Linked DNA regions of Homo sapiens. The protein of the gene in region 2 purifies or fractionates together with the protein of the main gene of each other region. This does not show direct contact. Each region holds a gene or a part of one and is shown on either strand. Other genes may lie near its edges. The genes, in order: GRAMD1A and PREX2.

What was found.
Region 1: the proteins of PREX2 (region 2) and GRAMD1A purify together in Homo sapiens (affinity purification with mass spectrometry; one large-scale study listed by BioGRID and IntAct). This does not show direct contact.

What each region holds. Positions count from the first base shown.
Region 1 is NC_000019.10:35,017,128-35,020,945, reverse strand, and holds part of GRAMD1A (protein Aster-A), read right to left. Parts: intron 1,756-3,818; coding exon 1,637-1,755; intron 1,556-1,636; coding exon 1,413-1,555; intron 1-1,412. UniProt on the Homo sapiens protein: Cholesterol transporter that mediates non-vesicular transport of cholesterol from the plasma membrane (PM) to the endoplasmic reticulum (ER).
Region 2 is NC_000008.11:68,112,415-68,116,232, reverse strand, and holds part of PREX2 (phosphatidylinositol 3,4,5-trisphosphate-dependent Rac exchanger 2 protein), read right to left. Parts: intron 481-3,818; coding exon 301-480; intron 1-300. UniProt on the Homo sapiens protein: Functions as a RAC1 guanine nucleotide exchange factor (GEF), activating Rac proteins by exchanging bound GDP for free GTP.

The DNA.
Region 1 (3,818 bases), on a different chromosome or scaffold from region 2:
CCAGAATCTAAACTCTTCCCCCTCCATTTCCTCACCCTGATTCAGCCTCCGTCCCCTCCAGCCTGGATGTCCCAGCAGCCTCCTCCCTGGCCTCCCTGCTCCTGTACCTGTCTTTGCAGTCTGTTCCCACCAGAACAGAGGGAGCCAGAAGGAGCCTGGGACCACCTGAGTCAGGTCAGCGCCCTCCTGGCTCAGAGCCCTGGCCTGGTTGCACCTCACTCCAGGTAAAGTCAAGTCTTCACCATGAGCCACATCTGGTTCACCTTTTTTTTTTTTTTTTTTTTTTTGAGACAGGGTCTTGCTCTGTCGCCCAGGCTGAAGTGCAACGGTGTGATCATGGCTCACTGAAATCTCCACCATGTCTGGCTAATTTTTTAACTTGTTTTTTGTTTGTTTGTTTGTTTGTTTGAGACAGAGTTTCACTCTGTCACCCAGGCTGAAGTGCAGTGGCCCGATCTCGGCTCACTGCAACCTCCACCTCCTAGGTTCAAGTGATTCTTGTGCCTTAGCCTCCCAAGTAGTAGGGATTACAGACGTGCATCACTACCCCCGACTAATTTTTGTATTTTTAGTAGAGATGGGTTTCACCATGTTGGCCAGGCTGGTCTCGAACCCCTGACCTCAAGTGATCCGCCCACCTCAGCCTCCCAAATTGCTGGGATTACAGGCGTAAGCCACTGCACCTGGACCCTGGCTAATTTAAAAAAAATTGTTTTTGTAGAGACAGGGCTTCCGTACGTTACCCAGGCTACTCTTGAACTCCTGGGCTCAAGTGATACTCCTGCCTCAGCCTCCCAAAGTGCTGGGATTACAGGTGTGAGCCACTGTGCCGGGCCCCGGTTCACCACTTTAATCTCAGCTCCTACTCACTCAATCTTACTCCACTCCAGCCATTGCCCACACCCCTGCCTCAGGGCCTTTGCACCTGCTGTCCCAAATGAGTTGCTCTCAGCTCCTTCAGGTTCTTGGTGAAACATTTCTTTCCCAGTAGGCCCTTCCCTGACCAGCGTGTCGGGTGTAAAAGCCTCCACACCCTGCTTCTTTAGCCTGCCGTGTTTTCCTCATTTTTCTCCATAGGCCTAACTGCCAGTGAATGTTCTGCAGATTTTCCTGATCATTTCTCTATTGTCCAATTCCCCACTAGAATATGAGCTCCCTGAGAGAGGTGATATTGCCTGGCTTTGCTGTATCCTCAGAGTCTTGAGGCTCAAACACCCTCTGTAGATGGGAGGAGCCATCCCAGGGCCACTCTTCCTCTACCCTCCACTATTCGGAGGACAAGGGCCTCAGGAACCCCACGCTTCTGTTCCTCCACCAGGGTGGGAACCAAGGCTCTGCTGCTGACTTGAGGAGTGGACAGGAGGCCCTGGGGCCACCAGGGCATCGGGTGGAGGGGCCCAGCCACCACTCACCGGAGCCGCGCCTTGTTCCGGGCCAGACCCAGGATGCAGTAGCGGTGGGCAGTGTAGAAGTAGTCCTGGTAGGGGATGCCCTGCGTCAGCACCTCGGAGTCCACCACACACCCGCCGGCCTGGGGGCCGCGCCGGAACAGCGTCTGCAGGGACAGAGCCGGAGAAGTCAGGGCCACCCCACTCACCCAGCTGCCCCACCCACTCGGCTGCCCCACCTGGCCCACCTGTGTCTCCACCACGGAGGCGCTCTTGGGGCCCAGTGGGTTGCTGATGGGGATGGTGTACGTCAGCACCCGGCGCTGGTGGCACTTGCTGTCCCCACTCCAGGGGCTCAGCGTCACGTCTAGAGGAGGGAGGAGCAGCATGAGGAGGCCACACCCCAGTCCTTTGCCCACAGGCCACAGGAGACTCAGCCTTCTGGGAGGTCTCTCTGGGGACCTGTCCCAATCCCCACCACTCCTCTGTGTCCCCACCTTCCTTCCAGGAGCCTAAAACCTTAGCTGTTGGGGCAGGGCCATCTCCTCCACTGCTGCAGCCTCAGTTTCCCCCTCTGCACCCGTCTTGGCTTCTGCCCTGAGCATTGGACCTGTAATCTTTTGAACACCTTCCCCTGGAAGGTCCCTGGACCCCTCGAACCCACCGAGCTCCACACAGCCTCAGCATCTCCCCAAACCTGCTGCATCTCCCAGGCCCCCACTCAGGGGTGGCCCAGGGTCCTCCAGGCTCCCACTGGAGCGGTAGGCCTTGCCCTGGACACCCCCTACTCAAACCCCTAGATGGTTACCTACACTGTGTGTTCACCAAACCTCCTGAGCGTCACTCCTGGTTCAGCCCATCTTTGCCTGCCCAGTGCCCCTGCCAGCCTTCCCTTGAGTGTCTGGCCTCAGTCTCCCCATCTGGTCCAGGGGCATCTTGTTAAAGCCAAGCCTGACTCTATCCCTTCTCTGCCTAGAACACTCCATGGCTCCCCAGTACCCCTAGAACAGAGTCTGAGTTTGGTATAGTTTGGATATTTGTCCCCACCCAAATCTCATGTTGAATTGTAATCCCCAATGCCGGAGGTAGGGCCTGGTGAGAGGTGTTTGGATCATGGGGGCGGATCCCTCATGGTTTGCTGCTGTCTTCATGATAGTGAGTTCTTCCGAGATCTGGTCATTTAAGTGTGTGGCACCTCCCCTCCACTCTCTCTCACTTGCTCCCCCTTTGCCTTTCAGCATGATCAAAAGCTCCCTGAGGCAGCCGGGCACAGTGGCTCACGCCTGTAATCCCAGCACTTCGGGAAATTTGGGAGGCCGAGGCAGGAGGATCACCTGAGGTCAAGAGTTTGAAACCAGCCTGGCCAACACGGTGAAACCCCGTCTCTACTAAAAATACAAAAATTAGCTGGGCGTGACGGTGGGCGCCTATAATCCCGGCTACTCAGGAGGCTGAGGCAGGAGAATGGCTTAAACCCAGAAGGCAGAGGCTACAGTGACTCAAGACTGTGCCACTGCATTCCAGCTGGGGCGACAGCAAGAACCTGACTCAAAAATAAATAAATAAATAAATAAATATGTGTTAATGATCACAAATTTAATGTCCACTCTGTCAGGCCTATGCAGGGCTTGGAGGCCAGTGGGAGACCAGGATAGATGAACTCCTGTCCTTAGCACCCAGAATCTCTTGAGAACAACAGGAAATATCTATAAATAAAAACCACACACTACTGGCATGGTGTGAGTTAAGGGCAGAAGCTGTGAGTATCTGGGGGTATCTGGGATCTGAGGAAGGTAAGGGAAGGCTGCCAGGAGGATGTGAAATCAAAACCAAGGCCTGAAGGAGGAACTGAGGAAGGAAGGGGTCGGGGCAGAGGAGCCCAGGAGGCCGCGTGATACCAGTAAAGGCCCTGAGGCTGGAGGCCAATATTGAGAGAAGTCCCCTGAGGCTGGGATGGGGCAGCCAGGTATGGAGAGGGGCAGCCACAGCTCTGGGTGAGGCTGAAGGGTTGACATGGGACCAGCCAAGGAACTTGGGAGGCTACAAAAGAGATTCAAGCAGGGGAGGAGCGTGTCAGATGGGAGTTTCTCTTTGTTTCTTTTTCTGTATTGATGAGACATGCAGTATCCCCTGCAGTCAGGAAGATGGTGCCTTGTGTTGGGGGGCTACAAGGCCCCCAAAACTATGCTTATGTCCTAAAAGGGCTGGCGTGTCAGGCTGAGGAGCTCTGTATTAGGCCATTCTTACATTACTATAAATACCTGAGGCTCAGTAACTTATAAAGAAAAGAGGTTTAATGGGTTCACAGTTCCACAGGCTGTATAGGAAGCATGATGCCGACATCTGCTCGGCTTCTGGGGAGGCCTCAGGAGCATTTTTTTTTTTAATGGAGTCTCTCTCTGTCACCCAGGCTGAGGTGCAGTGGCATGA
Region 2 (3,818 bases):
CACAATTTTCTTACCAGCTATCTGTGTTACACAATCCATATACAGAACAACTCTCCCAAATTAGGCTCACACAACCAGCGAAAAAATGCTTTTTCCAAGCTACTCATATTAGAAAAGGGAAGGATTTGAAATATTACATTGTCCCACTATGCTTTGTCTGAGGTCGGTAGTAACAGGTGATTATTGTGAAAGACCAATTAAAAGAAAAACAATCAAAAACTTTTTTCAAGATCTTTGTGGAAAATCCAGCATCATATTTGACTTTGTTAAGAAAATGAGTTTGAGGAATTAGTGAATTACCTGTAAGAGTCTCTGTTGCTGATGGTGTCATGACCAGAATCTTCCTGTTCATCTCCTGCTACATTAAAACATACCCGTTTGCTGTTTCTTTCTCCCTTCTCATTGTCACTGTCTGTTGGTATTATGCCCTCTGATGTCTTACGTTCTAATTTAGGAGAATATGTTATTGAAGACAGAAGGCTGCAATGTAATATTAAAAAAAAATGCACATTTTCAAACTGTCTGCTATATATAACTACCTTATTTGCTGAATACAATAGGCTTACAAATATTTCTAGAGTGCTTCAATGTTTCATATCAAGTAAATATTCTATTGCATAAAAAGCATGTCATTCAAAGTTCTCTTGTTCTTCACAAAATAAGTCATACAAACAACATACAATTTAGACCAGAAAGCTTCATTGAAATACAGGTTGTGCCATGTATGACTATAGCTAAAACAAAGCTGTGATAGTTTTGTTTGACACTTGTGAAATGGAGATAATGAGAATAACTGGCTTCCATGACTGCTGTGAGAATGAATATTCCTGGTGCATAATGGGTGTCACCTCTAGCCCCTGGCCATTAGCACAACCATCACCACCTTATGAAAATACTCGGTAATCAGCCGGGTGTTGTGGCTCATGCCTGTAATCCCAGCACTTTGGGAGGCCAAGGCAGGCGGATCACCTAAGGTCGGAAGTTCGAGACCAGCCTGACCAACTTGGAGAAACCCCGTCTCTACTAAAAAATACAAAATTAGCCGGGCGTGGTGGCGCATGCTTGTAATCCCAACTACTCAGGAGGCTAAGGCAGGAGAATTGCTTGAACCCAGGAGGCGGAGGTTGTGGTGAGCCGAGATCGTGCCATTGTACTCCAGCCTGGGCAACAAGAGCGAAACTCCAACTCAAAAAAAAAAAAAAAAAAAAAAAGAAAGAAAAGAAAAGAAAGAAAAGAAAAACAGAAAATACTCAGTAATCTTTAAAGTGCTAGCCAAATATTAAACCCAAACTATAAATGGGCCTTCATGTCCTCACTGGCTCATATTCAGTATTAAAAACCCACCTACCCTCTATCTATGCCTTGGGTTTTGCCCAGGCATTCCCTATTTGGCAGGGAGAATATTGGATTGTCTATCCGTCTCCCTGCTCGTACAAACAGGAGTCTTGGCCTTGGGGATTACAAGACACTAAACAGAGTTACATACAATGTGAGGATGGGGTAAATCTGCAAGCCAGCCAGGATGAAATGTCCCAAATCTGCCCACAGAAAGAGCTCCTCCACCTGGCTCCAGGCTAAAATGCCGCAGTCAGACTGAACTGTGTGAAACCTGCTGAGGACTTTGAGTAGCTGCTGACTCCAACACTCTAGGCTTGAACATTTGGCTGTGGCATGTTTCTGTTACAACTAACTCAAAATTAGGCAAAAATGGAATTGAACTTTATTATCAAAGAGCATGCTAAAAAACTTGCAAAATGAATTAAACCATGTATAAACAAAGGACCCATATAGGGCTTCTCAAGCCAGCAGCCATCTTCGCATTTACTAAATACCTGTGATTTTCAGTTCCAATCAGTAGCACATATCTTGATTCTCATTTTTCCATAGCAATGTAATGTTTGTTATTTCAAGACGGTGACGATATCTTATACCTCTTACGCATATTCCATAATGTCAAACCCAATGCTGTGCATTGAATAAATACCTATTAAGTGATTTCACTAAACACATTTATTATACCATGCACTGTTCTTGGTGCTGTGGATATAGTAGTTTATAAAACACACAAAAGGGCCGGGCGCGGTGGCTCATGCCTGTAATCCCAGCGCTTTGGGAGGCCGAGGTGGGTGGATCACGTGAGGTCAGGAGTTCGAGACCAGCCTGGCCAACATGGTGAAATCCCGTCTCTACTAAAAATACAAAAATTAGCTGGGTGTGGTGGTGGAAGCCTGTAGTCCCAGCTACTCAGGAGACTGAGGCAGGAGAATCGCTTGAACCCTGGAGATGGAGGTTGCAGTGAGCATAGATCACACCACTGCACTCCAGCCTGGGCAACAGAGTGAGACTGTCTCAAAAACCAACCAAACAAGCAACAACAACAACAAAAACAAAATACAAAAGCCCCTGCCTTCTTGGAGCTCAAATTCTACTGAGAGAAGACAAGTAAAAACAAGTAAACTTTCTAGTATATCAAATGGCAGCAAATGGTAAGGAGAAAAAGAAAGCAGGGAAGGAAGCGTGAAGCTGCCACTTCAAACAGTGGTGCAGTCAGGTCAGGTCTCACAGCGAGGTGAGATTTGAACAATATTTTGACATTTTATAGGTTTTAGACACCAGTGAAAAATTGAAGGAGCTATGTTACATTGCTTGAGGCCCTGTGAACATTTTTAATAACCAAAAGCTATGGATGATTTTAAACACAGTTTTTCTCTTTGGAAAGATACTTTTATGTCCTGTAAGACAGATTGTCTATTTATTCACCCTCTCCACCCAAAAGATTAAAACATTAGACTAACTCCAATTATCCAAGCTCCATGCTGCACAGACAGATGAACTCTGAATACCAAAGAGGGAAAAAATGCAGGAGTTCTCATTTTGCCAAGAGGCCTCTGTGCTTATGTATCTTTTAAATTAGAAGTCATGGGGCTAAGCATAATTTTTTTCAAAGTTATATGAATTGTATTCAGATATTTGCTTTTTATTTAAAACAGCTGCAATCATGCTTGCATTGACCCCGTGGGACAAGTGTTAGGCTTACAAACAAATGATAGAAAAACTGTATTTTTAACACCATGTTTTGCATAAAATTTCTAGATTCTGAAAAGCAACAAGGCATCAAACCATAATATTTGTGCTTGCAGAAATCCCTTCACTTTCATTGGTATAAAATATTAAGTTACCTACTAGAGGTCCATTAATTAAAACCTTCAGCAGCATGCAATTCCAGGTGAATCTTCTCCTTGTGCCATTGATAAGAAAGATTTTTGTATACAGTATGTTGCAATGACCTGTGTGTTTTTAAACATCATCATCATTGCTAACATCTGTTCAGCTTTCATGACAGTCACGATGCTAAGTCCTTAACAGGTATGAATTCATTTAATCTCTAAAACCACCTTATGAAGTAGGTATTATTATTTTCCCCATTTTAGAGGTGGGGTAGGCAAGACATATTGTTACATACATATCCTGTGCAAATTAAGCAGGATTTCCTCTCCCTGCATCTAACTTGCACACTCTGGAGGGAGTAGGGTGCATCCCGGTGTTTCATAACTCAACTCACAGAAGTACTGTGAGAATGAAATAAGCCAATGTATATAATAATGTAATCTTGCCTGGCAAATAAGCATCTATAAAAAAGTTGGCTTTTATGGTGTGCCCCTCTTGTTGTACATTTAGTAGCAAAATGCTTGGGGAAACCTCAGTGATTACTCTACCACCACCACCACCACCACCACCATTCCTATCTGTAACCCCCGGGTTACTAACTGTCTTAAAGTGTGGTTTGTTCACCACTCAATCCTGAGGCGTCTGGCACC